Regions from separate parts of the Homo sapiens genome. Here all the other regions are linked to region 4. Evidence: fine-mapped expression QTL. A gene starts in region 4. Each other region holds a variant in brackets. All regions are shown on one strand. Distances are between the middles of the regions. Region 1 overlaps CTXND1 (cortexin domain containing 1). Region 2 overlaps ZFAND6 (zinc finger AN1-type containing 6). Region 3 overlaps ZFAND6 (zinc finger AN1-type containing 6). Region 4 holds the start of FAH (fumarylacetoacetate hydrolase).

The links. PIP is the estimated chance that this variant, and not a neighbour inherited with it, causes the effect.
Region 1: its variant is the best candidate, but not a certain one, in a credible set for the expression of FAH in iPS cells (HipSci, PIP 0.66).
Region 2: its variant is the best candidate, but not a certain one, in a credible set for the expression of FAH in whole blood (INTERVAL, PIP 0.89).
Region 3: its variant is the best candidate, but not a certain one, in a credible set for the expression of FAH in whole blood (TOPMed, PIP 0.60).

Annotation. Positions count from the first base shown.
Region 1 is chr15:80,189,507-80,197,439 of GRCh38, forward strand. It overlaps CTXND1 (cortexin domain containing 1), which reads right to left. Exons shown (of 3, transcript NM_001352888.2): 3 at 5,975-7,933. Among named protein-coding and RNA genes, the nearest start is that of FAH, 40 kb to the left of the region's middle. RefSeq lists an enhancer at 7,737-7,906. The variant GA/G (reference allele first, on the strand shown) is at 3,123.
Region 2 is chr15:80,119,935-80,127,867 of GRCh38, forward strand. It overlaps ZFAND6 (zinc finger AN1-type containing 6), which reads left to right. Exons shown (of 7, transcript NM_019006.4): 3 at 394-564; 4 at 1,778-1,886; 5 at 2,766-2,866. The coding sequence starts at 411. Among named protein-coding and RNA genes, the nearest start is that of FAH, 29 kb to the right of the region's middle. The variant A/G (reference allele first, on the strand shown) is at 3,151.
Region 3 is chr15:80,072,955-80,080,887 of GRCh38, forward strand. The region is part of intron 1 of ZFAND6 (zinc finger AN1-type containing 6); the gene reads left to right. Among named protein-coding and RNA genes, the nearest start is that of ZFAND6, 17 kb to the left of the region's middle. The variant G/A (reference allele first, on the strand shown) is at 4,777.
Region 4 is chr15:80,148,802-80,156,734 of GRCh38, forward strand. It overlaps FAH (fumarylacetoacetate hydrolase), which reads left to right and starts at 4,198. Exons shown (of 14, transcript NM_000137.4): 1 at 4,198-4,334. The coding sequence starts at 4,254. RefSeq lists a silencer at 3,627-4,186.

The DNA.
Region 1 (7,933 bases), 41 kb after region 4:
CCTTGTTGCCCCCACCATGGGACTTCTCTGTCCTGAGGCCTCTCACACACATTGGTTTACCTTTGAAACACTGTACATTGAGAGCTCTCCTGAGGGTGAGTGTAGACTTGAACCAAGACAATGTTTTTGAGGACAAGGGAACTTTAAGGATTTTTTCTGTTTTTTTGTTTCGTTTTGTTTTTTAATTTTGAGAAAGGGTCTCACTCTGTCACCTAGGCTGGAGTGCAGTGGCACAATCTTGGCTCACTGCAGCCTTGACTTCTCTGGCTCAGGTGATCTTCCCACCTCAGCCTCCCAAGTAGCTGAGACTACAGGTGCACACCACCATGGCCAGGTGATTTTTTGATTTTTTATAGAGACGGGATCTCACTATGTTGCCCAGGCTGGTCTTGAACTCCTGTGCTCAAGTGATCTTCCTGCCTTGCCCTCCCAAAGTCCTGGGATTACAGGCATGACACACCATGCCTGGCAATTTTGGGGTGTAAAGTATCACAATTAATATTATCTCAAAGATTCCTGACACCAAAATGGATCTCAAAAGTGGTTCTATTTTCACATTTTCTCCCTTTCTTTAGTTTGGAAGCATATTCCCTTTAACACCCCCAGAAAAAGTAATTTGGCAGGGTTGTATCCTGAAGTACTAATTTGTTTTCTGTGTATCCCCTCTCTTTCTGTCCTCTCAGCAAGATTTCCAGGGCTGTGGGAGTATTTTGCTCTCCTTCCTCCTGCAGAGAGGCAGAAAGAAACTCGTGGGAGAGGGACCAAGACTGGATGCTTGCTTGCAAGCCTGTTTTTGTTTTTTAAAATTCTGCTCTTGAAAACTAAATAAGGCTGAGGCCAGTCTTATTTTCAGACTGTTTGCCAACAGCACACCAAAAAGTTGGAGTGACAATTTCTTTCTTGGAGAGGGAATGGAGTAGCATGGCACATCTATTCCCACCAAGGTCATGATCCTGGAAATAAATAGACCTTTGTTGTCTATGATGATTTGATCAATATCTGCCTTCATTGGATTTTCAGCTCCTTGAGGATAGTCTGCTTTTGCTTACTGAAAGTTCATCAGTACCTAGCACGTAAGAGCCGCTCGATGTATACTCATTCAGTAAGTGAATGAATTCTAGGAGAGCACTGGGAGCAGATTGTGTCTTATTGATAGGTCTACTTCTAGCATTTGCAGGGCCTAAGCTGAGAGTGCTCATGGAGTCTCAGTATTTAGGAGGTATAAACAAGCTATACACTGTTAAATAAAATACTTTCTATTCTCCTACCTAGATATGTTTGCTTTCATAATTGCAAAACAAACATATTTGCAAAGTGATGGCTTTTATGTGATTGAAAATTGGTAAAATATACAACTAAACTTAATTATCACCGCACTTGAAGAAAGTCGATGGGATGGCAATGTTTGGATGAGCATTAAAGACATAAATTCATGAATTTTATACTTTATACATTTTTAAAATCAGACTTTAATTTTTACAATTATTTTTCTTTCTTTAATTTCATTAGAATCATTAATTATGCTCTCCTGAGCTTTTCATATAATGTGTGGTTTATTGATGATATAAAAGATTAAAAAGTACATTGAATTATACTTCAGTGTACAAGAAGTAAATATCTTCATCAAAACTCTGTGTTAAAAATTGAAAAATTAAATTTTTCATATGCATTTTCAAAGTTAGTTTTCTTTGAAAATATTCAAAATTATTAATAATAAAAAGCGAGATACAAATAATTAAAGAGCTTTAATATTTAATCTCAAAATTCTTTAAATCAAAATGAAATGTCTAAATTCATTTTTTGAAAATGTAATAAAATCTGTTTTTGTTTTGTTTTTTGATATGGGGTCTCACTATGCTGCCCAGGCTGGCCTCAAACTCCTGGGCTCAAGGGATCATCCTGCCTCAGCCATCTGAGTAGCTGGAATTACAAGCCCGTGTCACTGCACCCAGCTCAAAAAAATTAATTAAATCTTATTAAATATATTTTATAAAAACAAAACTACTTTGCAGTCTTAGTGTTCACTGTCCACTTAGTTGCCAAAGTAAAGAATTAGTATCACTCTTTGTTTAGGTTATGAGACCCATGTGCCAACGAGGGCACATGTTGTGAGTCCCTTCAGAACCACAGATTGGAAATAAAGTTTGGTTTTAAAAATTTATAAAGTAGGTATGTAGTTGATGAATTTATGTCTTTAATTCTCATCCAAATATTGCCATCCCATCAACTCTCTTCAAGGGCAATGATAATTAAGTTCAGTTGCCTATTTTACCAATTTTCAATCATATAAAAGCCAAAAAAGAAAAAAAAAAAGCAAGAAAGTGGATATTTGATATAAATGGGAAATGTCATTTGTTTGGGGAAGAATCAGTTACATTCTGGCTAGGAGGAAGTGTGTAACAAGTTGAATAATCATTCCTTTCTCTTACCTAAGCGCTTCCACTGACATGTCCACCTCCAGGGTTGGACCTGCCACAGTCCTGCGTGACATTCACACAGTCTCTTTTATTCTGGGGACACAGGGCAGGGATGTAAAGAAGAACTCCCCTGGCTTGGACAGTATTACTCATATTTGCAGTACAGGTTGAGCTGCACCAACCTGAGGCCCGAGGGATAGAGGTGCTTGTATGAATTTGAACAAATTGATTTGTATGTGCGTATCTGTTATAAGCTGGGCCCTCTGTGGCATGAGTTCCAAGGAAGCCCCCACTCCATACCTTACCCCAGCCTAAGGGCAATATTGCTTCTTTACCTCCATCTTTGGACCCCACACGGTCTCTGATATTTGTTTTGTAATAGCAGAGACTTGTTCATTTCACACAACTAGTGAGTGGCAGAGCTGAAACTGGATTCTAGAGCTTTCAGCATCTAGGACAACACTCTCCCCATTTATGGTCTAGTGGTATGTGGACTTTGATTTCGGCCTGTGGAAGCAAGATTCTCAAGGGCAGGGCTGTGCTCTATGCATCTTTGTGTCCAAAGCCCCTGTTAGACAGTAGTTGCTTCTAAATGTGTGTGGCATTGTACTCACAAAGTTCCCCGTTTCGTAGCTATAAGCTCAAGCAAACTCTTCTTTCAAATGATATTAGTGCTGTATTTGGTAATCTAAGAGAAGAAAAAAG[GA/G]AAAAAAAAAAAAACCTGTGTGCACCAAGGTTGGTCACTGAAGCACTATTTTTGTAGCCTAACTTTCAGCCTCCTGAATGTCATCAAGTCATTTAGCTTTCTGGGGTCTCTCTTCCCTTAATATATATTCGTGGAAAGCTTGAGCTGCTGTCCTATCTCCAAAGTGAAACCGCATATCTCCCCACTTAATGGGATGACTGCTGTGAAATGGAGGTGGCTTCTAAGGGACAGCGTAATCTTTTTTGGGGGTATATGTTGACCAGCAGCCTCTGTATGGTCAGCTGAAGTATTCTCAATTCTGGGGTCCTTCTTAGTTATGTAGATGAGGCAAGTGGACACTCCTTTCCTTGGAAAAAGGGTATAGTTGGATATAACCAGGGTGCCCCTCTCTTTGGTGCAGAAGGGTGGAGAGGGAGTGGACCAAATTGCATAAGAAGTCCAAGGGATGTGAGAAACTGGTATTCCAATCCTCCCTCCTAAATAGTCAAAGTTAGAAAATTGGTTTGGGTGCACTGGTTGGGTCCTGACTGAGGTCTGTTGGCAGGAAGAACACCCAGGGCCCTCTGCAGATTCATCTCCCTTTGTCCCTCCAGATCTATTCTCCATCCTTCCCTGCCCTGCTGTTTGCGCACCTGGAGGCTGACCTCGTTGGACAACATCACCCAGGCTCATGCTCTCTGGCTGCTGGTTAGGATTGGCCAGTGGAGGTGCAGGCAGAGGTTGGAATATAGAGGAATAAAGCAGCAGAGAGCATCATCCTCCTTACTCTTTCCCTGCTGAGCCATGGTTTGGGCAGTGGCTGTGTCCCACTATGTCCTACTGCTCCTGTGGGCAACATAACCACAGTCTTTGCTAGATTCTGGTGCCACTGTTTTCTCCCCAGGCAAGGGGCAGTAATGGCTTCTTATCATTGTTAACCCTGGATTAATCATCAACCCTTACTGATTCTCTTTACCTTACCTGTCCCTCTGAAAATTGTCCCAAAATTAAACCCTCTTCATTGAACCTTTTGAATTTGCCGCTTAAATCCTGATGAATAAAGTCATTGGTATTAAGGGTGACAATTGGACCCATGGAGTGAGGGCTATTATTGTAGAAGTGGCCCCATGGAAGCCCTTGGAACTGCCTCTTTGTGACAAAATAGTAAACCAAAAGCAATTCTGCATCTTCAGGGCAATTGAATTGTGCCCCCTTCAAAGACTTGAGAGATGCAGGACAGGTGGTTCTAATCACATCACTATTTAAGTCACCTGTCTGGCTTATGCAAAAGCCAGGTGGGTCCTACAGATTTTCATAAACACAATCAGGAATTAATGCCATTTCAGGAGTTGTTCTGGATGTGGTATCTTTATTAGAGAAGATCCGCTCAGCCCCTGACACCTGGTGTGCACCTGGTATTGTACCTGGTGACTAGAACAGTAATTCTCAAAAGGTAGGTCTGGATTAGCAGCTTAACCTTGGAATGTGTTTGATGTACAATTTATAGAACTCCACTGAAGACCACCTGAATTAAAAATTCTAGGGGCTTACCAGCTGTGTTAGAATGAGCCGTCCCGGTGATTCTAATGCATACTGAAGTTTGAGAACTGTCATATTAGAAATAGTTTCCATTGCATCACAATCAATACAGATAATCAGAAGGAGTTCACCTTCACCTGTTACAAGACTGCGGCACACCCTAAATGCATTACCTCAGGGATCTGCCAATTCTCCTGGTTTCTGTCATATGATATGAGACCCTTATCATCTTGACAGCCCATAGAACTTTATGATTGCCTGCTACATTGATAACATTATGCTAATTGGATCTGGTGAATGAGGACTAGCAAGTGCTGTACTGCCACATGCTTGCCAGAGAGGGGAAGAAAACACATGTGGAGGTTCAGTGACCTGACACATTGGTGAAACTTCTTGGGTTCTAGCAGGCTGAGGCCTGTTGGAATATCCCCACTAAGATGAGAAACATGTTGCTTCACCTTGTGTCTTCCACCATAAAGAATGAGGCTCAGCAGTTGATGGATCTCTGGATTTTTGAGGCAATATATAGAACATTTGTGTGTGTGTCTGATGGATTTACTGGTTACATCATAAGATTGCTGGTTTTGAATGGGGCCCAGAATAATACAGGGCTCTAGAAAAGGTATATCCAGACTGTGATGAAAGCTACTCTGCCATTTGGACCTTAAGATCAGCAGATCCAATAGTGCCAGAAGTATCTGTTGCAAATGGAGTGCTGTATGGAATTCCTAACCATCTCCAATAGGAGAATCACAGTGTTGACCCAACTGAACAGGATGGGAAGAGAGGGTCCAAGGCAGTCTTGGGCAGATATGTGTGAAAAGACATCTTTGAAGGGGCCCTGGGTGTCAAGATATTCAAGAGCCATCTAAATGCCTATCAGAGGGCATCCACTGCAGAAAAGACTCTCAACGATCAGCTGGATAAGATGACCCAACCTGGGGGTGTGAGCCTCTTCCTCTGTCTACTCTGGTGTTTGCTCAATGACATCATGAACAGAGTGACCATAGTGGAAGGGATAGAGGCTATCAACACTATGGGCTTTCCCTTGTGAAGGTCCATTGGTTTCCATAACTTCTGGATATGTAGCCTTCCAATGAATGAGACCAATGCCAAGCCCCTGATATGGCACCATTCCCAGAGATGGGTGGTAGGAGACAGACCAACCGCTTACTTGGTAGCAGGTTGATTACACTGAATCCCTTTCATCATAGAGGGCAGTAGGAATAGACACATATTCCAGATATGGATTTGCCATTCCTGCCCCTCCCTGCCATTTGTGGTGTTTCATTCTTTCATTTTGTGCTGCTAAAACAGAACAACACAAACTGGGTAATTTATAATGAATAGAAATTTATTTGGCTCACGATTTTGGAGGCTGCAAAATACAAGATCAAGGAACCAGCATCTGGTGAGGACCTTCTTGTTGCATCATAAACATGGTGGAAGGAATCACATGGGCAAGAGAGAAAAGAGGACCAAACACCCCCTTCATAACAAACCCACTCTTGAGATAACTGCATTAATCCATTCACTCCGCCCTCATGGCCTAATCACCTCTCATTGGGCCCCAGATCTCAACACTGTTGCAATGGGAATCAAGTTTCCAACATATGAACTTTGGGGGACACATTCAAACCACAGCATATTCATCTCAGCATATCCCACAAACATGGCCTTTAACCAAGAAACCTTAGGTTTTGTGGGTTTGGAAATCTCTAGTGACCAAGAGGAACTGCTTCCACCAGGGAATATAGTTATGGGTCTGTTAAATTGGAAGATGATCTTGTGCCATCTGGGGCTCCTTATGTTGAAATATTGGCAGAGAAAGAGATCACTGCACTGTCAGGATGGTTAACCCCAATATCCAAGGGAAAGTGGGGTTTCTGCTACACAATAGGGGCAAGGAGTACTAGCTTTGGAACCCTGGGATTCGCTAGGGCACTTGGTACTCCCTGTATCCCTTGTCCTCATTCTGTAAGCCTGAGGTGGGGGCATGAAATTAGATTTCTAACAAGCTCCCCAGAGATGCCAATGCTGTCCATCCGTGGACCATAGTTTGAGTAGTGTTGCCCTAGAGCACCTGCTATTCTTTCTGATAATTTTACAGAGCTTCCAGGTGAGATCTTCAAGGCCTCTTCATGTTCTTTAGGAATCTGTGGATACTGTGGCAACTCATTGAAGACACGGCACTAAGAATTTGAATCCTCTGTGGATGAAGATTTGGGTCATTCCACCAGATAAAATTCTCCAACAGCTAAGGGACTGCCAGAAAGTAGAGGGGCTATGGAATGGGTGGTGGGAGAACAAGACTGCAGTTACCACTCTGGGCCTCATGACCAGCCACAGAAGGGGGCACTAGCAGTTGTGCTTTACAGGAAGTGTTCCACTTACCCGGGACTGGCTACATTATGATTTAAGTTGCAGGAGGGAGTGGGACTAAATTGCTATCACCCCCAGACAATATGGCTGCTGGTGAGATTTTATGTTTCCCCTGTGCCGGGGACAAAATATTTTTCTCCCATCTAAGCAAAGTTTGTGAATGGCTGCTAAGTGGTAATAAGATGAATTGTGCTGGTTTTTCTTCTTTTGCTCCAGTGTGCTGCCTATGTGGACCGTATCACCCAGGGTCCCCTGACCTTTAGCTTCTGTTGTTTTTGGCCAATGGAAGACCCAGACAGGAGATTGGAGGGCAGGAGGCAAGAGGTCAAGGTATTTATTCCCCCAGCTCTCTTCCTACTGAGCTGCAGTGGGTGCAGGAGTTTTGATCCTCTAGCTGTGGCCAGGGCTTCCATTGGGTGACTCCTTCTCCATGGCTATAGCTCTCCCTGGGTTCTAGATCCTTCTCCTTGTCTCTCTAGGCAAGAGATGGTAACAGTTGGTGGCCTGCCTGTTCCTGGGTAGTTTGTTTTTGTTTTTTATTTTTAGAGACAGCATCTCTCTTTGTCGCCTAGGCTGGAGTGCAGTAGTGTGATCCTAGCTCATTGTAACCTCAAACTCCTGGACTCAAGTGATCCTCCCACCTCAGACTCCTGAGTAGCTGGGACTATAGGTGTGCAACACCACAGCCAGGTAATTTTTTTTTAATTATTTTATTTTTTGTAGATAAACAGATTCTTGCTTATGTTGCCAGGCTGGTTTCAAACTCCTGGGCTCAAGCAATCTGCCTGTGTTGGCCTCCCAAAGTGCTGAGATTACAGACATGAGCTACCTTGCCTTGTCATCCCTGGGTGTTTTACTGTTCCCTGTTGTTTTCCATACCCTTGCCCAACCTCTGTAAATATTCTTTCAT
Region 2 (7,933 bases), 29 kb before region 4:
ATGCTTAGATATTAGATAATATAACATACATCAAAACTTATAATGTATATCTCTTATTACTAGGAGGGTCCAAACTGAGCTAGACTTAATAAGTTATCCTTGACCTTCTGGGGGTAGAGTCTTCAAAACAGATTTCTTTCTCTAGGAGTTCTTTATACTTTCTGAGCCTGTACAGACTTGGCTTATGTAGAGTGGGTTGGAGATAAAAAGTTCAATGTGTGTCCTTTTGGTTTTTATATTTTTCTCTCCTTTTTAGCCCTATGTCTTGGGACAGTTATGTAGAATAGTTTGATATATGTGGGCTTTTTTCTTTATCATATAAAAGCAGTTTTGGATAATGTGTGATTGGAAGTTACGTGTCTGAGTTCTTTGCTAATTTTATGTAATTTTCAGGTGTGCAACTGAGGAACATGGCTCAAGAAACTAATCACAGCCAAGTGCCTATGCTTTGTTCCACTGGCTGTGGATTTTATGGAAACCCTCGTACAAATGGCATGTGTTCAGTATGCTATAAAGAACATCTTCAAAGACAGAATAGTAGTAATGGTAGAATAAGCCCACCTGGTAAGTAATTCTAGTGAAACCCGTCTATATTCATAATTGAAATACAAGTGGATATTTCGGTATACCCAATACCTTTTTCTGCTCTCACATTATATTTATATTACCATATTCATATCAGTAAAATTTCTCATTACACATTGTGATTATAATCAGTAGTGAGGAGTTAGGAATGAGTATCATCACTCATTGAAAATACTGTAAATTCATACCATAATCTTATTTCTGTGGCTGTGGAATTCTGTTACTTTATTTAGAGGGGACACCTCAAGTGTCTTGGAAAGTAAGGGAAGAGAGTGATAAAAGAACCTTTGTTCTTTTATCTGGTGTGACTTACAGCTCAAGTAGTTGTTGAAGGAAGGAGTGGATTATTGATAACCACAGCTCAGTGGACTTGAGAGGAAGCTTTACTCCATTAGGAAGGAGGAGTATCGTGGATTAACTCATAGTAAGGGATGTTCAACCCCAGTTCACTAGGGTTTTTTATGCCTTTTTGTGTCAAAGGATATTCTTGGAATTGAGGTGGTCTTTTGTTTCAGTAGTTGTATAAGAAGGATCATGCGGATTCCAAGTATAAGCTTTGCAAAAAGGAAAGTGTTTAGTGTATTCATTTAGGATAGATCTCATGTAGGTTAATGCCTGCATGTATAGATTTTTGTGGTTAATGAAAGTGTAGGCTATTACTTAGTTCATTTAATATTGTGTGTGAGATCTTGTCTGTTTTTGTTCAAGCCAAAACCTACAACCATTTAACCAAAACTCCAAATTTGCTTAAGGCTAAGATCAAATGAGTATAAATTGTTTTAAAATTAAGTCATCATCTACATTTATAACCTAATGTACTGAGCATAGATTTTAATTCTGAACCTATATTCTTCACTGCTATGTCATCTTATTTAAATATCTCATTTGTTCTCTAGTACTTGGAAGATGTTTTTGAATTAAAGCATTTGGGCTTGGGTGCTATTCAGTCCTAAGAAATAGGAGTTTATTAATGTATACAATTTGCAGATGGTTTCCTTCTTGGTTTAAAATTAACATATTTTTCACTGGCAAACCGTTGAAAAATTTTTTAAAAATAATGAACCAACATACTACATATTAAAAGAAAACCTCTATACTGTGTTCTGTGGAAAATGGATTTTGATTTTTTTAGATAAGGTCTTAGACTGCTGAGCATATAGAATCACTAATACGCAATGTGGTACTGTTACAGCAACCTCTGTCAGTAGTCTGTCTGAATCTTTACCAGTTCAATGCACAGATGGCAGTGTGCCAGAAGCCCAGTCAGCATTAGACTCTACATCTTCATCTATGCAGCCCAGGTAAGATGTACTCTCTGAATTCTAATGAGAATGCTAATAAAAACTAAAGAGTATATTCTGTGTTTGATTAATAAGGAAAACTACGTAAAGCTACTTTTAGATTAACTGGCCTAAAATTTTATCGTCTGATTATAACTAGTTAGAAAAAGCGATTTCTTGCTTTTACCTTGAGGGATCGGGGGTTATCGTTTAAGTCTTAGATTTCTTTTTCAGGCATCTTTTTCTTTCTCATAATATATCCTGACCTACTCCTGAAGTCCTTTGGAAGCATGTTAAGTGAAATGTTAGTCTTATTCTGCAAGTATTACTACCGTGTATTAAAAAAATACAGTCTTGTCACACATTATCTTTGTTTAATATCATGATGTAGTACTCATATTTGTTTATATTGTAATGTGTATATATATATTTTTTAACTCTGAAGTCACATCATTTAGAAGCCTGCATACAGCAATACTGGTTTCATTTTTATTCTGCTTTTAGGAACCAATATATTAAGTTCCTACACTGGGGTTCCTTTTTTCCAGTTCATGATAAGATATGTTCAGTTTTGCTATGCCAGAATATCATTTACAGCTTTGTCTTAGGGTTCTTTAAGCATGTCTTTATCATGCTAGTTTTCATTTAGTGAATTCATGTGGTACTTGAAATACACAAAGGACATATACACTGTTGCTTTGTTTCCAAGGCAGTAAAATTCTGGTCCAAATTAGTCTCTAGTTTTAAAGCTCTATGATTATGTTTAAGTTATTAAAAAAAAGTATGTCTGTGTTCTCATCTTAATTATCTACTTAGATATGTTGAACTCTTACTGTGTCACATTAGTTAATATTCATGTGTAGAGATCACCTTTTAAAATGAAATATTTTGCTTTTCTAGCCCTGTATCAAATCAGTCACTTTTATCAGAATCTGTAGCATCTTCTCAATTGGACAGTACATCTGTGGACAAAGCAGTACCTGAAACAGAAGATGTGCAGGGTTTGTATATGAACTAGCATGTATTTTGTTATTTGAGTATTATAGGCCAGACACTATCCTAGGTGCATGTATAAAAAAATTGCCAGCTTAAAATACATGTTTTTCTGTTTTCCCTATGAACACAATACTTTATATCTTTAAGTATTTAATTAACATGTTGGGGAGCCATTTCACACTTACATGTAATTTTATCATCAGCATAAATGTTGCAAATTCAAAATTTGTTTAGTTTGGAAAATATAATTAAATGAATGTGTGGCAGTGTTACACTGTTCTCTTTTACT[A/G]TTTTGGCCGTTTCAGTCTATATACTACTCTGTAAGAAAACTGGGGCTGCTGGTTTGAGGGGCATCTCTTTCTTTTGTGTTTTGACTCATTATCTGAGAGACTGTGTCCATCGTGCCTGGCAGTTCTCCTTTTTTCTTCCCCATGTGTGCAATAGTCACATTCAGTTGCTCGTATTCACAGCATGGTATCTATCGTGTCTTGCCCATGCTCTTCATATCCCCATTATGAAGCTCAAAGTGATCTAGGAAGACTTGAAAATTTGTATGAAGGCTTTCGTAGTAGGGAGAGAGAATGCGGAGTAGGCCATTTTGGAGGCTATTAAATAATCTCTGCTTAATTAGTTGTATTCTAGCAGTGTGTGGAAATAACATGGTAACAAGGAAGGATCTCTGGAAAGATAAGCCTAATGAAGAGCAGTGTGTCATTCTGCCTGTGAGATGATTTACCAGTGAAACTTCATTGCACATGGTGTTCACATGATGGTAACAGATACATCTGCCAATCCTAGTTTAAGATGGCTAAATTTTTAATTTAGGCCAGGCACTGTGGCTTGTGCCTATAATCCCTACCTACTTGAGAGGCTAAGGCAGGAGGATCGCTTGAGTCTGGGAGTTTGAGACTAGCCTGGACAACAAAAAATTAGCCAGGTGAGGCGGCACATACCTGTAGTCACAACTACTCAGGAAGCTGACGTGGGAGGATTGCTTGAGCCCAGGAATTCAGGCTGCGGTGAGCTATGATCGTGCCACTGCACTCCAGCCTGGGTGGGCACCAGAGCAATTCCCCCACACCCGGTCTCAAGAATTAAATAAACAAATTTAAATAAGCTAGGTAGTTCCTCTTGCTTTTTTTTCATACCCAGCAAATACTTGAACCAGTTTGCTTGTTTGTGTAGATTTTGCCGTAACAAAAGAATATTCTGTGTGGTCAACGTAAATATTCTAGTCCCATCTAGCATATTGTGATAAATTCTTAAATGTTTTAAGTGAATAATTCTTATTTCTTAGTTACATCAAAAAATTTAAGGAAGGGCAGAAATGAGGAATCTTTAAAGAAATAAGGAAAAGACTGGGCGCGGTGGCTCACGCCTGTAATCCCAGCACTTTGGGAGGCTGAAGCGGGTGGATCACGAGGTCAGGAGATCGAGACCATCCTGGCTAACACGGTGAAACCCTGTCTCTACTAAAAATACAAAAAATTAGCTGGGCGTGGTGGCGGGCATCTGTAGTCCTAGCTACTGGGGAGGCTGAGGCAGGAGAATGGCATGAACCTGGGAGGCGGAGCTTGCGGTGAGCCGAGATGGCGCCACTGCACTCCAGCCTGGGCAACAGAGCGAGACTCCGTCTCAAAAAAAAAAAAAATTTAGAATGTTGGCAGTGAAAAAAATGTATAAAGCTTAAGAATACAATAGTATTTACAGAAGTTTGACAAAGAATAAAGGTCATAGATTGGTGAACTATCATAACACATAGGAAGTGTTTTTATACCATTTATTTATAAAAGTGTTTTTATTTCCATTTGTGGTGTATGGAAAACAATACCGTTTTCTCCACTTAGCCCTGAGTATATCACTTCAAAAGGTGGTCCTGATGCCATATTAGGAGAAATTGTATAGGCCCCATTTTTCATACATGATTTGAATGACTTTTAGGTTAAACCAGTATTAACTTGTAAGTACCTTTAAAAAACTTAGCATTCGTAATATCAGCAGCAAATCTTTGATAAATTAGGTATAAGTTTCATCTCAGTTTTAAGAGAGGAGGGTTAGGTTCCAGTATGTAAAATCTCTTAACAACCTAGTTTTTAAAAAAAATTTAACATATTATTGAATTAAGAATACCCTTTTTATTATAAACATACACAAATATAAACATGTATGTTTGTATATATGTACGTGTATATTCTGTATGTGCACACACTCATACACTTACATGCAATTACGATTTCCCTATTGATCAAATTCAAATAACTTTTTTTCCATTTATTTAATAGATGGATGAAAAGAGACAGAAAAAGTCTCTTTGAGTCAGTCATATGGTCATAAAAGCTGGAACTGGAATCCAGGGACCTAACTCATAGAGGCCAGTATTCTTATGATTAGACAGTTGTGGAGCTTGTTGGACTAGGATGTGGATATGTGTATTCCTGTTAACACATACATCTCCCTCAGTTCTCAGGGTAGGATCAACTCGTTTAGCAAACTACCCAGGTATCAGTTTTCTTCTTCCTCACTCCATATGCTTCCCTCAAGGGAAATTTATATAGATAGGAAAACCATCCCAAATGGAAGAAGGTATATGAGTAGCAGCTATATGTCTAAGCCAGAAGTTTGTAACATTTTGTAATTGGAACATTCAGAACAACTTTTTCTCTACATGTATTCTGCTTATAATTAGGATATGCTGCCACCAGGTTGGTGGTACTGCTTTCATATTGGCCACATGGCTCTGAAGAATTTTTATGTTTCATTGAGAATTTAGCATATTGAAGCATGTTTCTTAGTTGTTCTTTTTGATTTAAAAATATAGCAGTACCTTACTTACATAGTGTCACTCAGGAGTATAAGTCAAATTTCCAGTTCACAAATGCTAGCTTTTAAAAGAACTACTTTAAGCATTTTGGTACACTCTAAAACTGTTGAAGAATATGCTTAAATTTGGTCAACCTCTTAGTCCCTCAGATCTTGGGTCATAGTAGAAAAATACTGAATTTGGATTCATAAGTTCTATTTTCCTATCTTGGTATGCCTGCTTAACTTCACTGAGCCTTACTTTCATTACTCTTAAAAGAGAATAAGAATGTCCCTCTTACAGGGTATTAAAAGATACTGAGATAATGGAGGTTGGATGAGCTTTGTAAGCTGCAGAAGATATTCTTTATATTGCCCAAGTGATTTGGGAGTTGTAGGAGGCCTAGAGTAAGAGAGAATTTTGAAGCTTTCCAACACTCGAATGATGTCATATGTTAAGATGGTAAGGTCTACATCACTGAAGCATTCTAGGAAAGATGAGTTGATGTTAGAGACCATATAGAGAGAGGAATGCTGTGCTTAGTGACAGGATGAACTAGAATTCTCAGGCTCTTTCCTACTCTGAGGGTTTCTGACTTTATACAAAGTTGAATTGTCAAATCATTGGTTCAGAAAAATCAGAGGGGGACAGTCTCTTTGGACTGATTTAGGAAAGCTGTATGGGTTTTAAAAATCAGGCATTTCTTCTGATTCTAAAGAATGAGTGAGAATAGCCAAAGGTATCTTGAAAAATAACAAAGTTGGAGGACTAACAATTCCTGGCTTCAAAATTGAGTACAAGCTACAGTAATCAAGACTGTGTTGTACCGGCATGAGGATAGTCATGAAGGTAAGTGGAATAAAAAATTGAGAGTCCAGAAATAAACTCTTATTATATTTATGGGCCATTGACTTTCAACAATGGTGCCAAAATCATTTGATGGGAAAAGAGTAATCTTTTAAACAAATGATGCAGGAACAACTTCATATCCACATTCGAAAGAATGAATTGGACTCCTATGTCATACCATATGCAAAAATTCACCCGAAATACATCAAAGACCTAAAACGAATATAAGAGAACTATAAAACTCTTAAAGCAGGTATACATTTTTGTGATCTTGGTTTAGGCAGTGGTTTCTTAGATATGACACCTTAACCACAAGCAGCCAAAGAAATTATAGATAAATTGAGCTACATCAAAATAAAGATTTTTGCTTAAAAGAGTGGAAAAACAGCCAGGTGCAGTGACTTATGCCTGTAATCCCAGCACTTTGGGAGGCCAAGGTGGGCAGATCACTTGAGCTCAAGAGTTTGAAACCAGCCTGGGCAACATGGCAAAACCCCATCTGTACAAAAAATAGCCGAGTGTGGTGGCGCACGCTTGTAGTCCCAGCTACTGGGTAGGGAGGCTGAGGTGGGAGGATCACTTGAACTTGGGATGTTGAGGCTGCAGTGAGCCATTAACGCACCACTGCACTTCAGCCTGGGTCACAGAATGAGACCCTCTCTCAAAAAATAAAAGAGTGGAAAACCAGCCTACAGAATGAGAGAAAAAATACTTTGAAATCATATATGTGATAAGGATATATAAATAATTACAATTCAACAATAGAAAACCCATTTTAAAAATAAGCAAAGGATTTGAGTGGACATTTCTCCAGAAAAGATATACAAGTTTCCAATAAACACATGAAAAGATGCTCAACAGGGCCGGGTGCGGTGGTTCACATCTGTAATCCCAGCACTTTGGGAGGCTGAGGCGGGCGGATCACCTTAAGTCAGGAGTTGGAGACCAGCTTGGCCAACATGGTGAAACCCCATCTCTACTAAAAATATGAAACTTAGCTGGCTGTGATGTCATGCGCCTGTAGTCTCAGATACTCGTGAGGCTGAGGCAGAGGAGAATTGCTTGAACTTGGGAGGTGGAGGTTGCAGTGAGCTGAGATTGTGCCACTGCACTCCAGCCTGGGCAAAAGGGCAAAACTCCATCTCAAAAAAAAAAAAAAAAAAAAAAAAAACCATGCTCAACTTCATTAGATATGAGGGAAATGGAAGTCATGGGACACCACTTCGTATCCACTAGGATGGCTCTAATCAATAACAAAGTATTGTCAAGGATGTAGAAAAATTGGAGCCCTCCTGCCTTGGTGGGAGTGTAATATGGTGCCAGATACTCTGGAAAACAATCTCCTAGCTCCACAAAAAATTAAAAAGAATTGTCATATGACCCAGCATTTTTCTCCTGATTGCCAGGAGAATTGAAAACATAC
Region 3 (7,933 bases), 76 kb before region 4:
TTTTTATAAATGACATCTTGAGGAGGTTCATTTGATATGTCATTTTCCTTAAACTTAAAATGTTAAGTTGCTGAAAGATAAATGTGATAGGCTTAAATACGTCTTTTTTAGTAAATTGAAATGCCAACTGTTTAATTTTTTTAACCCCAGCACAGCACCCCTTTTAATTTCAGTATATTTTAATTTAACAATATGTTGACATTTTTAATATGCTTATAATTTTTAATATGCTCATAATTAAAAAGGCCATTGATGAACAAAGTGAAACTGCTTTCTTCTTACTTCATTCAAACTCTTCATTTCTTTCAAAGGTGGAGATAAGTAATTAACATTTCGAAACAGGAAATGAAAGGATTTATATTTTTAAAAGCTATAGGTAGGCTACTACAACTTTTTTTTAAAGTATCTGATTCTATTTACATTTCTTATTTATGACGTAATTGTAGTGTATTTCAGTACAAGAATATTTTTTAGAGACTGTTTTCTTTATATTGTTGCTCTTTGTTCTCATAGAAATTAAGGTATAAATTGCAATAATCATTGCAATAATCAGACCAAAAGCCAGCTAAGCATTTTCAGCCATTGTATTTGCTATGCTACTTGTTCCGGATCATGCAAAGGTTTTTAAATTAATGCTTTTCTGCTATATCTGTTGTTTAAACAATAGTGTAATAATAATGAAATCAAGAAAAGTTACCTATCTACCCACCAGCAGATCATTGTTTGGTCATCTCATTTTTTTCCTGTTCCCTTCTCTGTCTTATATTCTTGCAGTTTTCCAATAATTATGAATCTGTGCAGTTTTATGTTTTCACTTAACTATCTGTTGAAATTGTTTTCATTTCAGTAACTATGTAATTCTCTTAAATTGATGTGACCTGAATTAACCTAGTTTTTTGAATTGTCTACTTTTAGGTTCTAATTTTTCGTCATTTTTAATAGTATTGCGTTGAACACACCTGTGTGTAGCTGTAAAATATTTTCCTTTTTAAAAAAGATTTCTTTTGGAAAAATCCTGGAGTGGCTTTACCTAGATCAAAGGATAATGAACACTTCACTGGCCAAATTGTTTTTCTAAAAAGTTATACCAGTTTATATCGACACCAGCAGAATATGCTTCAAAGTTTTTCTGATGTGTAGCCCCTTAAATGTTCTGTTAAAGTGTGCCTATGGAGCTCTCTGACTTGTTGATTAGTTTTTGCCTAAAAGCCTATTTTCAACACCACTTTCCAAGATGTAGATGGATATAAAGCAATTTTTCTGGATATTAAAATCAGCTGAGGGAAATTGGAAACACTTTTACCCACTTAACTGAGCAATTGTATCTATGCTAGATATTTTATATACTTAGTGTATGTGTTGCTATTAGTAAGTATGGGGCTTAATGTTTTACACTGGCTTTGTTATTCAGGCTGGCTTTTCTTTTTCTTCTGGTAAGCACATACCAGAAGAAATATTTTCTTTCAAGAAAATATATCAGAAACATTTTTAGGAGGAGACTGGAGTAGTGCCAGTTAACATTAGGAGACTGGAGTAGTGCCAGTTAACTTTACCTGTCTCAAAAACATGTATGAATAACCTTTGTCATTATTTGTGCGTTTCTTAATTTTGAGTTTTTAAAAATACACTTTGGAAACAGATAACTTTTATGAATAATTACAGGCTTTGAAATGGTATATCAGCATCTTTCCAGTATTTTATAGGTTTCAGTTAAAGGTAAGAACTTAACTTTACACACATATAGTGGTGCTAGACATATGTTGTTTCTGTTTGTCTTTAAGAGCATGCTTTGTTGGCATTGACCACAAATTATGTATACTTTTACTAGCTTGTCTGTTAAATGAAATAGGCATAACTGGCTTATAAACTAGTTGAGTAACGTTCTAGAATAAACTTAAGTTGTGTTAAAATCAAAGACAATTCTAAGACAATCATATTTTTTCTTACAAATGGGGAGTAATGATAAGCCATAGGCTGGGCTATAACTCATTGATGGAACCAGTAGTTGAGCATGTATGGTATGGAGTTAGTCTAGCTCATTTTGCAATTTAAATAATTTAACTTACTTTGTGTCAACTTTTATTTCAATTAACTGATAATTTAGTATCTCTGACTTTCAGAGCTGATGCTGGTATGTTTGTCATTGTGTTTGTTTCAGAGGGAAGTTTTTTTTGTTAATGTCTACTTTTATTGTTTGATTTTTTTTCAGATACTTTGGTGTTGAACATTTGGGATAGAAGAGAGAAATTTAAAATTAAAAATTTTCCATATTTCTATCACAAATATTGGTAATTTGACAACATGTAATTTGATTGTCGTCTTAATAAAATTTAATGTTATTGCTACCAAATAGAGATAAAGGTAATTGTAAATACTGTAGTGAAAGTTTAGCTGTTGATTACATTTTGCTGGGTACCCCAAGGTAAAGAAGTGATTTTTTTTAGTGGTTTCTGTAACTGTAATTCTGCAGTACTACTGATCTTACATTGACAGATTTAGGGAGTATCTTTTTGGTTTCCTAGGGAGAGTGGAAAGTAGTTTTCTACAAGGAGAAGAAAACTTTTAAATTGACCTAGGTATTTGGGTCAAGATATGAAAAGTGATGGTTGCGTTTTATTTCAAAAATAATGTATTCAAAGTCTCTGTTGTTAGATGCCATTCAAGAGGAACATAGTGATTTTTTTCCCTCCAAATAATATGAGGAAAAAACTTAATGGGCAGTAAGTTGATAAAACTTGAAAGAACCTAGAGCCATTTTTGTTTAAACCTATTAATGCTAATTTTTGAACTGATGTGTCTATGAACTTGTTTGACTAAATTTGGTTTTCTGTGTTTGTATGCCATCGGAGAAAATGAACTCGAAACAGTTTTGTCGTTAGTAGTGCTTTGGTAGAAGAGAGCAGATCCATCTATCCCTGTTTATACCTTTTTTCCCCTTCGCAATATAAATACCCTGTGTCATCTGCTACCAATAGATTTTTGTAAGTACTAGATTTCTCAGCAACATTTAGTGCCATTGACTACTTTTCCTGCTTGAAACTCTTCTCATTATTTTCATGATACTGTCTGTGCTTTCCTCATTAGTGATCTCTGTGTCTTTTGCAAATGTTTCTCCTTTACAACCATTAAGTAATAGAAGTTCGTAGCATTTTGTTCTTAACTCTTCTCTAGACTTCCCTTTTGATAATCTCCAGTCCCATATCTTTAATTAGCATACTATACATATTAATGGTTCCAACGTCTGAATCTAAAATCCAAAACTTTTTTTGTACCTGAGACCCATATTTATCCAGCTCACCAAAAGTCACAGCAAATGGGTGATACTGCCACCCAAGCCAGAATCTGATTGTCATTCTGATTCTTCTTCATCACCAGTTAGCCACAATTAGCCTATAAATTTTAAATTCAGTGTCTCTAGAATCAATCTTTTTTTTTTTCCTTCACGTGTTAGCATAAGGCCACACGGTATGATTTCTTAGATGACTAAACACCCCCCTAATTGATCTTCATTTCCATTTTAGGCTCTGTATAATACATTCTTTACTGTGCGGTCATATCTGTTTTTCTCTGCTTCATATTCGTTAGTGAATACTAGCTAGAGTGAAGAATAACACCAGCTGATTCTGTGCTAAACATTCTCTCAGATGGTCCCCACGCTAAGTACTGTTAGTCTTTTCGAACCAGTAAGTCAATTTAGAAAGGCTAGCTAATTTGTCTAAGGTCTCCTTGGCTGGTAAGTGACTAGCATACTTTAAAACTGAGGTTTGTCAGACTGGAAGTCCTTTCCTTTACACACTGAGCTGTGTGCTTTCCTGAGCTTACTTCTCTATTCCTTTTTTCCCTCACATCATTCCACTTCACTCTTTAACCACCAGCTATTTGTAATTCCTTCTTCTAAGGCATAGTGAAAACTTGCTGCCTGTCTAAAAATGCTTTAAGGGAAACAAACATTAAAAAAAAAAAGTATTTCTGACAGTTTTTTGGAACACTTTGATAAAGGATATTAAACATTTTAGCATCCCCAGGATACAAGAAGATAAAAGAATGAGGCACAGGCAAAGTAAAGGTAGTTTTCCTTATGCACATAGTTTTGAGTTTCATAGCTGTTGAATTCCTCACGTTTAATAAAAGCTTGAGACCAAGCTGTGTAGTGGGAAGATTAGGCAAAGTGCAAAAGCACTTTAAGCTATTTGAAATGCTAACAACTCCTTAAATAACTGTTGGCTTGGACCTTGTGCTCATTCTGCATCCGGGTGTATAAAGCACCTGCCTGTGAACAAAAGTCAAATAACTTACTGAGTAACTTATACATAGGGTAGAGAGGCTACATAGATTATTTTGCATCAAATATTCTATCATCAAAAAAGTTAAATAATGCAGACAACATTACTTACAAATAAAATTGACGTGAACAGAAAAATAGTTGATTTGGAATCATTTTCATTTAAAATATTTTCTCTTTGTCCTCTGTGCCATTCCCCCTCTAACATATTTTAAAGCAAAAGGACCTCTATTGGACCAAAAAAAGAAAAAGTAGCCTTTTTATTCATAGCTTTGAAAGCAACTTGGTGGTAAAGGAAAAAGGTCAAATTGATGAAACTTTTGAAATACAGGTAAATATTACCAATGTTTGTTTCTTTGAAGGGATCAAATTATTAACTATAGTTGGGAATTAAAGGTAATTATAAGCATAGTAAAAATCCATGAATTACCCATTGTAAGAATAGGAGTGAGTTTTCTTTCTTTTTTTTTTTTTTTTTTTGGAGACAGAGTCTC[G/A]CTCTGTCACCCAGGCTGGAGCACAGTGGCGTGATCTCAGTTCACTGCAACCTCCACCTCCCTGGTTCAAGCGATTCTCCTGTCTCAGCCTCCCAAGGAGCTGGGACTACAGGTGTCTGCCACCACGCCCGGCTAATTTTTGTATTTTTAGTAGAGATGGGGTTTCACCATATTGGCCAGGCTGGTCTCGAACTCCTGACCCTTGTGATCCACCCGCCTCGGCCTCCCAAAGTGCTGGGATTACAGGTGTGAGCCACCGCGCCCGGCTTTCAAAACTTTTAATGTGGCATTATTTACTATCCATAATAGTCTTTTGCTATATTTTATTTTTTCAACTTTTATTTTAGGTTCAGGGGTACATGTGTAGGTTTGTTACATGGGTAAATTGCATGTCACTGTGGTTTGATGTACAAACAATCCCGTCACTCAGTGACCATAGTACCTGATAGGTGTTAATAGTTTTTCAACACTCGCCTCTCCCCAGCCCTTTCCTCTAATTGTCTCCAGTGTTTATTGTTCTCATCTTTATGTCCTTGTGTACTCAGTGCTTAGTTCCCATTTATAAGTGACAACGTGGTATTTGGTTTTCTGTCCTGCATTAATTCACTTAGGATAATGGCCTCCAGCCCCATCCATGTTGCTACAAAGAACATGATTTTGTTCTTTTTTATGGCTGCACAGTATCCCATAATGTATATGTACCACATTTTCTTTATGTAGTCCACTGTTGATGGGCACCTAGGTTAATTCTATGTCTTTGCTCTTGTGAATAGTGCTGTGATGAACATAAACGAGTGCATGTGTCTTTTTGGTAAAATGATTTATTTTCTTTTGAGTATATACCCAGTAATGGGATTGCTGGGTCTAATGGTAGTTGTGTTTTAAGTTCTTTGGGAAATCTCCAAATTGTTTTCCACAGTGGCTGGACTAATTGACATTAACACCAACAGTGTATAAGCATTCCATTTTCTGGGAAACTTCACCAACATCTGTCATTTTTTTGACTTTTTAATAATAGCCATTCTGACTGGCTTGAGATGATATTTTGATTTTGATTTGCATTTCTCTAATGATTAGTGATGGTAATGTTGAGCATTTTTTCATGTATTTGTTGGCTGTATTTATGTCTTCTTTTTTTTTTCATTTGCTCAATTATTTTATTTTATTATTATTATACTTTAAGTTTTAGGGTACATGTGCACAGTGTGCGGGTTAGTTACATATGTATACATGTGCCATGCTGGTGTGCTGCACCCATTAATTTGTCATTTAGCATTAGGTATATCTCCTAATGCTATCCCTCCCCCCTCCCGCCACCCCACAACAGTCCCCAGAGTGTGTCTTCTTTTGAGAAGTATGTGTTCTTTTGCTCGTTTTTTAATGGGATTATTTGTTTCTTGCTTGTTGAATTCTGGATATTAGACCTTTGTCAGAGGTGCAGTTTGTGAGTATTTTCTCCTATTCTGTAGATTATCTGTTTACTCTGTTCTTTCTTTCCTTTTTTTTTGGAGACGGAGTCTCGCTCTGTCGCCCAGGCTGGAGTGCAGTGGCGCGATCTCGGCTCACTGCAAGCTCCGCCTCCTGGGTTCACGCCATTCTCCTGCCTCAGCCTCCCAAGTAGCTGGGACCACAGGCACCCGCCACCACGCTTGGCTAATTTTTTGGATTTTTAGTAGAGACGGGGTTTCACCGTGTTAGCCAGGATGGTCTCGATCTCCTGACCTCATGATCCGCCCACCTCGGCCTCCCAAAGTGCTGGGATTACAGGCGTGAGCCACCGCACCCGGCCTACTCTGTTCTTTCTTTTGCTGTTCTTTTGGTATACATTAAATAATAAAAATGTAAAATAATGACAATAGATTTTGAATGTTATAATAGATTTATGTGATATATAATTTGAAAAGAATGTTTTCCTTAGCTTTTTTTTTTTTTTTTTTGAAATGGAGTCTCGCTGTGTCGCCCAGGCTGGAGTGCAGTGGCGCAAACTTGGCTCACTGCAAGCTCTGCCTCCCAGGTTCATGCCATCCTCCTGCCTTAGCCTCCCCGAGTAGCTGGGACTACAGGCGCCCGCCACCACGCCCAGCTAGCTAATTTTTTGTATTTTTAGTAGAGTCGGGGTTTCACCGTAGCCAGGATGGTCTCGATCTCCTGACCTTGTGATCCACCTGCCTCGGCCTCCCAAAATGCTGGATTACAGGCATGAGCCACCACGCCTGGCCCTTAGCTTTGAGAAACAGAATACACAACCGTTTTTCTGTTTTTTTTCCCTTTCTTTTTTTTTTCTTTGAGATAGAGTCTTGCTCACCCACCCAGGCTGGAGTGCAGTGGTGCAATCTCCAGTCACTGCAACCACCATCTCCAGGGTTCAAGCAGTTCTCCCGTCTCAGCCTCCGAGTAGCTGGGATTACAGGCACCCACCATCATGACCAGCTAATTTTTGTATTTTAGTAGCTACGGGGTTTCACCATGTTGGCCAGGCTGGTCTTGAATTCCTGACCTCGGGTGATCCACCCACTTCGGCCTCCCAAAGGGCTAGGGTTACAGGCATGAGCCACTGCACCCGGCCTACACAACCAGTTTTCTTAAATTTTGTAGATAATTGTTTAAAATTATATATACAGTAGTTGCCCCTTATTCATGGGAGATATGTTTGAAGACCCACTGTGGATAGTACCAAACCTATATTTGCTGTGTTTTGTCCTATACATAAATACCTATGACATAGTTTTATAAATTAGACATAGTAAGACATTAACAATAATAGAATAATTATACTGTAATAAAAGTTATGTGATATCATCTCCCTCCCTCTTTCTCTCAAAATATCTTAGTATCTTCAGGCTGTGGTTGATCTCAGGTAACTGAAACAGCCGACAATGAAATCTTGGATGTGTTAGGTCATTCTTGCATTACTATACAGAAATACGTGAGACTGAGTATAAAAAGAGGTTTAATTGGCTCATGGTTCTTCAGGCTGTGCAGGAGACATGGCACCAGAGATCTGCTCAGCTTGTGATCATGCCTCAGGAAGCTTACAATCACTGCGGAAGCAAAGAGGGAGCTGGTGCATCACATGACAAAAGCCAGGAGCTAAAGAGAGTGGGGTGCGGAGAGGTACCACACACTTTTAAGCAGCCAGATCTTGTGAAAACTATCT
Region 4 (7,933 bases):
TCTAGGGAAAGGGCCACAAGGAAAAATCATGCCTAACCAACTTTAGTGTGTGTGTGTGTGTGTGTGTGTGTGTGTGTGTGTGTGTGACAGAGAGAGAGAGAGAGAGAGAGAAAGAGAGAGCGAAAGAGAGACAGGGAAATTTTAGTGTGGATTTATTGTTGACAAACTAAACAATGTTTGCAGAGAGAGGCACTGAGAATGATCTATTCAGCTGTGCCAAACAGGTTGAATACAGAGGTTGTAACTTATGTGTCAACATTCCTCTGTATTTCTGGGAGCAGAGTGGGATCCACAGCTATAGCTCAAAAAGGCACCGAACATTTGGATGGGAAAAAAGGGATAATTCAGATGGGAAAACTATTGAATATGTATTTAGTTATAAGAAAACAAAACAAAATTAGAAGTATTTTGTTGAAATAACAGTGAGGGAGAGTCTAAAAAGTGGCTCCTGCTTTGATAATGGTAACAGAGAACTCATTATATGGTACACATTATTAAGTCAGATGGCAATGACATGTTCTTTATTTAAGGTGCTGCTTGTTATTTGTGAGTCTTGCAAATCCAGCTTAAATCCAAAATGGATTTGAGGTAGTATTCCATCAGAACATAGACACAATAGTACCTGAAACAGACTAAAGACAGAATTAAAGAGGGCAGGAAGAAGAAAATTTATATTGCAGAAAACCTAGCCCTGGTTGAGCTGGTTCACCTAGGACTTCATCCAATCCCCTTCTCCCCACCCTACAACATGCACTTGCACTTGAATTACTTACGTTCAGTTCCAAGATCCTCTAAATTTTGAACTCCTTTGAGAGGACAGAATGTCATGTATATTTGCACATGACATATATTCTTGATACTAAAATGTACTGGACACATGCCAAACCCATGATGCCCACTACAAAATGTGTACCATAAACATCACTGAGCTCAGACCTGAAAAAGAGAGGACACTTACTTTGCTAAAGTGCTTGGCCTTTGACATAGTTTCCTCTTTTTCTTGACGACCATGCAGCAGTGCTGAATGTTGCAAAAAAGGCCACCCCATCCTGCTTCCCAGTGCAGGCAGCGTCCACACCTTGCTTATCTGAATGGCAACTGCCAGCTTCTCAGAGCCGTTGCAAGACATTAGTGTCCTGGATCTGGAAAGTTCTCTCTCAGCTCTCTTGTAAAGGAGTGAGGGACATGCTTTGTGTGAATGAGGGCTGCAGTGCAGTGTGTTGCTTTTTAGCATCAGAGGGAGGCATTAAATATGGTGCTACAGAGACCCAAACCAGCCTTCATTGCTGGAGATGCTGAAACTCACTGCGAGTCCTGAAAGTGTTCATACTCTTTGAGTCAGGAATCTTCCTTAGATAATTGTCAAGGAAAAGGAAAACATTCTGTGCATGCACCTCTTCATTGAACCGTTATTATTACCATCTAAAACATTGCGACTTCCTTAGCTAATGACAATGATCATAATAAAGCCTATTGGGCCTCAAGGAAAAATATTCAAGAGAATAAGGTAGGGAAAGACTGAAAAATTGCATCTATGTAAAGTTTATAAGGATGGAAAAGCCATGTGCATACAAATGGAATGAAAAAAAAACATGAAAATGAGAAGACTACATTGGTGGGATTATGGGCAATCTCTTTGTTTTAAAATTCTTTTTAAATAATTGTTGTGATATACGTGGCCAACACATTCTCTTCCAAAAAATGAGAAAGAAAAAATATAGTATACTTGCAAGTTATTTCAAATGCTGTTTTCCAAATAGAGAACAGCTTTGGCGTTTTCAGACACTGTGTATAATTAGTGGGTTGGTTAAGTCTATTTTAAAACTATGAAATCTTACTCCCTCTTTAGCCATCTCATCCCCACACCCTTTCCTACACATACATCTGCCCCATGTCCTTTCCCTAAAATACTTTGGTTTTCTTTCTCCAAGGGTTTTATCATTTAGGCTTTTGTTAACTTGTATGTATTCAGTAGAAGCTCCTGGCCTAGCATCCCCCACACAACACATGCTCCATAAAAACAGGAATTAAAGATGTGAGTTGCTGGTGTATCCCCATGGCCTGGCATAGGGCATGGGCTTATTAGTTATTGCTTCATTTCCTTTTGGTCAACAGTTTTATATTAATGACATGTATTTATGGAGAACCTATTCTGTGCCAGGTGTTTTGCTGGGTATTGACAGAGTTGCACATGGAATAAGAAAGCTCGTGGTTTTAATGGGAAGGGGCAGGGCAACTACAGAACGTGGAAATAATTCATTGCGTTGCAGCTGAGGACTAGCTTGAATTAGGCAGGTATCAAGTGCTCCCTGGAATGCCTCTTTATAAGGCCACCAAGTTGGGATACTCTCCTCTTCTTTTCCTCTTTCAGGAACCTACCAGAACAAATCAGACCACCTTCATTCCCTCCCCAGGGCTGACTTAAAAGAACTGAAGCCAGTCCTTGGCAGAGCCACTCAGGGCAGGAGATGAGAGCCAAGAGGCTGTGCCCAGATTACACTCCTTACTGGGTGATGATCACTGGTCACGCCTGGTGGACAGGCACCAGAGTGATCTCAGGGGCTAGGAAGGGGGGCTCAACAGCGGGCCCTGCTTGCCGTACTCGCTCCTCTCAAGCCGTCTGGTTTCAAGCCCACTTAGCTCACATTATCCTGCCATCTTCCAGCCTCTTCTCCCTAAGCTGAAATGCGGAGCAGCCTCCCTAACTCAGCAGTCACTGTGTCACATTCCTCAAGGATCTTCAGGGAACCCTTGCCCAGACTATCGTCTACTTTTCTAGATTTCAGCCGGCATCCTGGCTGTTTAAAAGTGTACCTGAATCATTCACACCAACAATAACACAACGACACACTCTCCGGTGTGTTCCAAGTGTCCTGGCTGTGGCATGGTCTCAAAAAACTGCAGCTGACTGCACATGAGTGATTAGATAACACCTTGAACCCACCCTAAGATAGTCTGCCTTTCCCTTCTTTCCTGTCTTCCTTCTTTTCTTTCTCCCTCTCTCTCTTCTCCTATTTCTCTTTTATCTTTCCTTTCCTTTATCCCCCTCCCCTCCTTTCCTCTTTTTCCCTCCCTTCTCTCTCTTTCCACACACACATAACCTGTATATGCCAGGCACTATTCTAGGTGCTTCACAAATATTAATTCATTCCATTCTTATATCAACTTTGTGAAGTAGGAACTATTATCATCAACATTATACAGAGAAGGAAGCTGAGGTAGAGAAAGTTTAAGTAACTTGTCCAAGGTTGAGCATCTTGTCAACGTCATTTTACTACTGGCATGTGAAACAGGTGAGTTATATTTTTTAGAATATTAATTCTCATTAATTGAAGCCTTCCAAACAGGCCTAACTGTCCCCTTCTCTGACATACAAGTGGAAGTGTCATAGCTGGACGGAGCATCATGGTATGAAGGCAGAAAGGACGCGACTGGGTGTTCTTCTGAAGCTCAGGGAGCAGCTCTTGGGGAGAAAGTGTTTCCAGGAAGCGGACAAGAGTTCTGTTGAGCTGAAGAGCAGGGCAGCAGCCGGGGCGAGCGAGGCTGGAGTCATGCAGGGCAGAGCCTTAAATGCTAAGCTGGGGTTTGCTCTCGGTAGGACCAGCTAGCTGCCCCGAGCGGGGGCTGGAACCAGATCTCCCCCACGTGGACTCGCGGACAGGGCGGGGATCAGGACGGGGGCGGGGCCAGGGGAGGGGCGGGGCTCGGGGAGTGAGGCAAGACTGGAGGGCCTGGGACTCTCGGGTACCCGGGCCAGGGGAGGGGCGGGGCTCAGGGAGGGAGGGAGAGACTGGATGACCTGGGGCTTGCAAGGCGGGGCGAGGGGAGGGGCGGGGCGAGGGGAGGGGCGGGGCTCAGGGAGGGAGGGTGAGACTGTGGAGGACCTGGGGCTCGCGGGGTCGGGGCAAGGGGAGGGGCGGGGCTCAGGGAGGGAGGAGAGACTGGAGGACCTGAGGCCCACGGGGGCGGGGCCAGGGGCGGGGCGGGGCTCTGGAAGGGCGGGCGAGACTGTGGAGGACCTGGAGCTGGCGGGGGTCAGGGTAGGGGGGAGGGGCAGGGCTCGGGGTTCGGGGGCGGGGTGTTCACGGTGAGACCAAAAGTCAGGTAGGAGCCTCCGGGGTCCCTGCTGTGTCACCCGGACAGGCCGTGGGGGCGGGCAGGGGGGCGGGGCCGGGCCTGACCACAGCGGCCGAGTTCAGTCCTGCTCTCCGCACGCCACCTTAGGCCCGCAGCCGTGCCGGGTGCTCTTCAGCATGTCCTTCATCCCGGTGGCCGAGGATTCCGACTTCCCCATCCACAACCTGCCCTACGGCGTCTTCTCGACCAGAGGCGACGTGAGCAGTGGGGCTTTGGCGTCCGGGCGCGGGGAGGGAGTGGAGTGGAGTGGAGTGGAGTGGAGTGGAGTGGAGTGGAATGGAGTGGAATGAGGGGCGGGATGGAGGCTTGTGCCATTTTTCTCTTAAGATTCGTTCCGTGAGAGTGCCTATGGGCTCGAGTCCCGCCTCGTAACTTTCTAGCTGTGCACGTTGTTTAACTTTTCAGCCTCATTGTCCGCAGGTTTGCTGAGAATTAAATGCAAAATGAAATGAATCGTGTCACTCTCCCAGACAAGCAGAGCAAGCAGGATTCTGTTACCGGAAGCTGCAGCACACAGGCATGCTGCCTACTCCGAGGTGGTTGCGGTGTGTTTCTCTCGCCCAAGAGGCCAGGTCAGGGCTGGTGGTTCATCTCGCTGGATAGCCCCTAACCCTAGAACCCGGGAAATGATAACCCGGTATGCGTAGCAGGTCAGAGGGGCACGCGCGTTTCTTGGCTTAGAGTTGTGAGATCTAAGATGGCAAGTGTCTCTGCCTATAGCTGAAATTCTTTCAGCTCCTGGTGTGGGCTCCCTGGCATTCCCCTACTGATCAGAAGAAAGAGGGCAGGGAAACAAACTTTGACTAAGTCAGTGTAGTCTGATTGGTAGAAAGAAGTATTTGAAAACTGGGGGTTTATCAGCAAATAGATAATAAGAGGTTCCCTAGGTTGGAAAAGCAGATTCCCTTGGATTTGTTGATGATATTTTTGGCTTAGATTTCTGCTCCCAACTTTAAAGGTAAACTCCTGATTCATCTCTGTAAGCCATAGAACCCCAGAATCAGGAAATGTTTGCTAAACGAGGGGCCTGGCAGTTGGCTTCTTCTTGGAAAGTGGGGTTCCCTCCTTCCCCCATGGCTTGTCATTGGATGCAAGTGGCTGGCCTTTTGTGGGCCTGTCTGCGGTAAGTGCTTTGGTCTAGAAGAGTCAACTTGTGGTTTCACATCTGGCCGGGCTGACCAGATGTTGCAAGGATACAGAAAGTGGACACTCAATCCCCTGGAGGACACAATCTGAGGCACATTAAATCTTAACTTGTGATGGCCAACAACCTTTCTGCAGACAGAGCCCTCCCTCTGCCCTCCTCAAACACTTTGCCCTCGGCAGATGTGTCCTCCCTCACCTTTCCTGGGAGCACAAATCCATTAGACAGAAACATTTGTGAGAGGCAGGCACACCCCAGTAGGGAGCTCTGACTTGCTTTCTCAGGGGAATCGAATTAATATCCGTTAGAGTGTGGCTAGGTGTTTTCAGACACCATGTCCCGCTGTTTCAACATCAGAATGTGCAGGGCAGCCACTACAGATGTCTGGAAGAGAGAGCCCCATTCCGCTGTCCTCTGATACAGTGCTGGGGGTGGAGAGTTGGCCCTTTGGCCTTCCAGCTGAACAAGCCTCTTCTGAAGCTTTCTCTGCAGGCATTGGACATTCCAACCGTGATGGCTGCCTTGCCAGGCAAGACTAGTTGCCAAGGCAAAACCTCCCTTCCCCCATGTCAGCAGTCAGCCTTTCCTAATTTGAGTGGAATAACAATGAATCCTGCCATCACTTTATTCATTTTTTTTTATTCAGCGAATGCTTATGAACCCCAACTCTGGTCCAGATTTTGCCTGGGCTCCGAGTTGGCATCAAAGACACAGGAGACGCCTTCCTTCCATTTCTGGTTGATGGACTAGTAAGGTGTACAGGGGTGCTCTCTGTGAAGGTAGGGGTGGTGGCCTCTGAGAACGGGGTTGTAGTAGTGTGGAGCTGGTTTTGCCGGGTGCCTTGTTAAAGTCCCCGTGGTCTGGCTGTGCTGCTGCCTCCTGGCCTCTGCTTTCTCCAGCCACATTGGCTGCCTTTGAGTCTCTGAGATGTGCTAAGAGCAGCTTCCTGCCTTCAGGCCTTAGCACATGTTGTTCCTTCTGCCTGGAATACTCGTCCTTCTGCTCTCTATATGCTTGGCCCCTTCTCACTCTTTGGGACTCAGCTTAAATGTCACCTCCTAAGCACCCTCTCTGAATGAGCTCCCCGCTGCGGCCCAGCCTTGGTTATCTCTCACCACACCCTGTGTTTCCTTTTGCTTCTGGAGAGAAGGAACCACGTCACTGTTCCCAGGGCCTCAGCAGCCTTTGTGTAATGCTGGTACTGAGAAGATGCTCTCTAAATCTTTGTGGCATGAATAGCGTCTACCCTGTGTCTGTTCTTGTGGTGAGAGATTTACAGATATTAATTAAATTCTCACAATAAACCTACTGTGAAGTTATTGTCCCCATTCTACAGATGAGGAAACTGAGGTCCAGAGAGGCAAAGCATCATGCTCCAGATCTCACAGCCAGTAAGAGGCAGATATGGGGTTGATCCCCACATCTGTCAGCCTCCCAATCTGTAAGGTCCAGCCCTACGGGGCTTAGCGGGTTTTCTCCCTGTGTGCGGAAACGAGAGATTGTAAGAAATAAAGACACAAGACAAAGAGATAAAGAGAGAACAGCTGGGCCCGGGGCACTGCTACCACTGAGACACAGAGACCGGTAGTGGCCCCGAATGGCTGGGCACACTGATATTTATTGCACACAAGACAAGGGGGGCAGGGTAGGGAGGGTGAGTCATCCAAGTGATTGATAAGGTCAAGCAAGTCATGTGATCATGGGACGGGGGCTCTTCCCTCTAAGGTAGCCGAAGCAGAGAGGGAAGGCAGCATAAGTCAGCATTTTCTTCTATGCACTTATAAGAAAGATCAAAGACTTTAAGACTTTCGCTATTTCTTCTACCGCTATCTACTACAAACTTCAAAGAGGAACCAGGAGTACAGGAGGAACATGAAAGTGGACAAGGAGCGTGACCATTGAAGCACAGCACCACAGGGAGGGGTTTAGGCCTCCAGATGACTGCGGGCAGGCCTGGATAATATCCAGCCTCCTACAGGAAGCTGGTGGAGCAGAGTGTTCCCTGACTCCTCCAAGGAAAGGGAGACTCCCTTTTGCGGTCTGCTAAGTAATGGGTGCCTTCCCAGGCACTGGCGTTACCGCTTGACCAAGGAGCGCTCAAGCGGCCCTTATGCGGGTGTGACAGGGCTCACCTCTTGCCTTCTAGGTCACTTCTCAGAATGTCCCTTCAGTACCTGACCCTATACCCACCGGTTATTCCTAGGTTATATTGTACTACAATAAAGAGTAATATTAAAAACTAATGATTAATAATGTTTATACTAATAATCGATAATTGTCCATGATCATCTGTATATCTAATTTGTATTACAACTGTATAGCAGTATAGCTACAGTTTATGCCTTCAGTCTCTTGCCTCGGCACCTGGGTAATCCTTCGCCCACACCAATCCCATGCTTCCCCCTCTATGTCAGGCTGGGAGTTGGGTAATGCTTTCCTTTGGACAACTTTATATCAGATATGACCAACTATTTTAAAACAAAGGCAATGCACATTCATTCTCTTGAAGTTAGACAAATGCGGTCTCCCTCCTTAGTTTGTTTCCCTCAAGTTGCAGATGGGAAACTGAGGCCCAGAGACTTGTCCAAGGTGATAAGATGGTGAATGAGGGAGCAGACTTGGAGCCCAGGAATCCTGGATCTGACCTGTGAG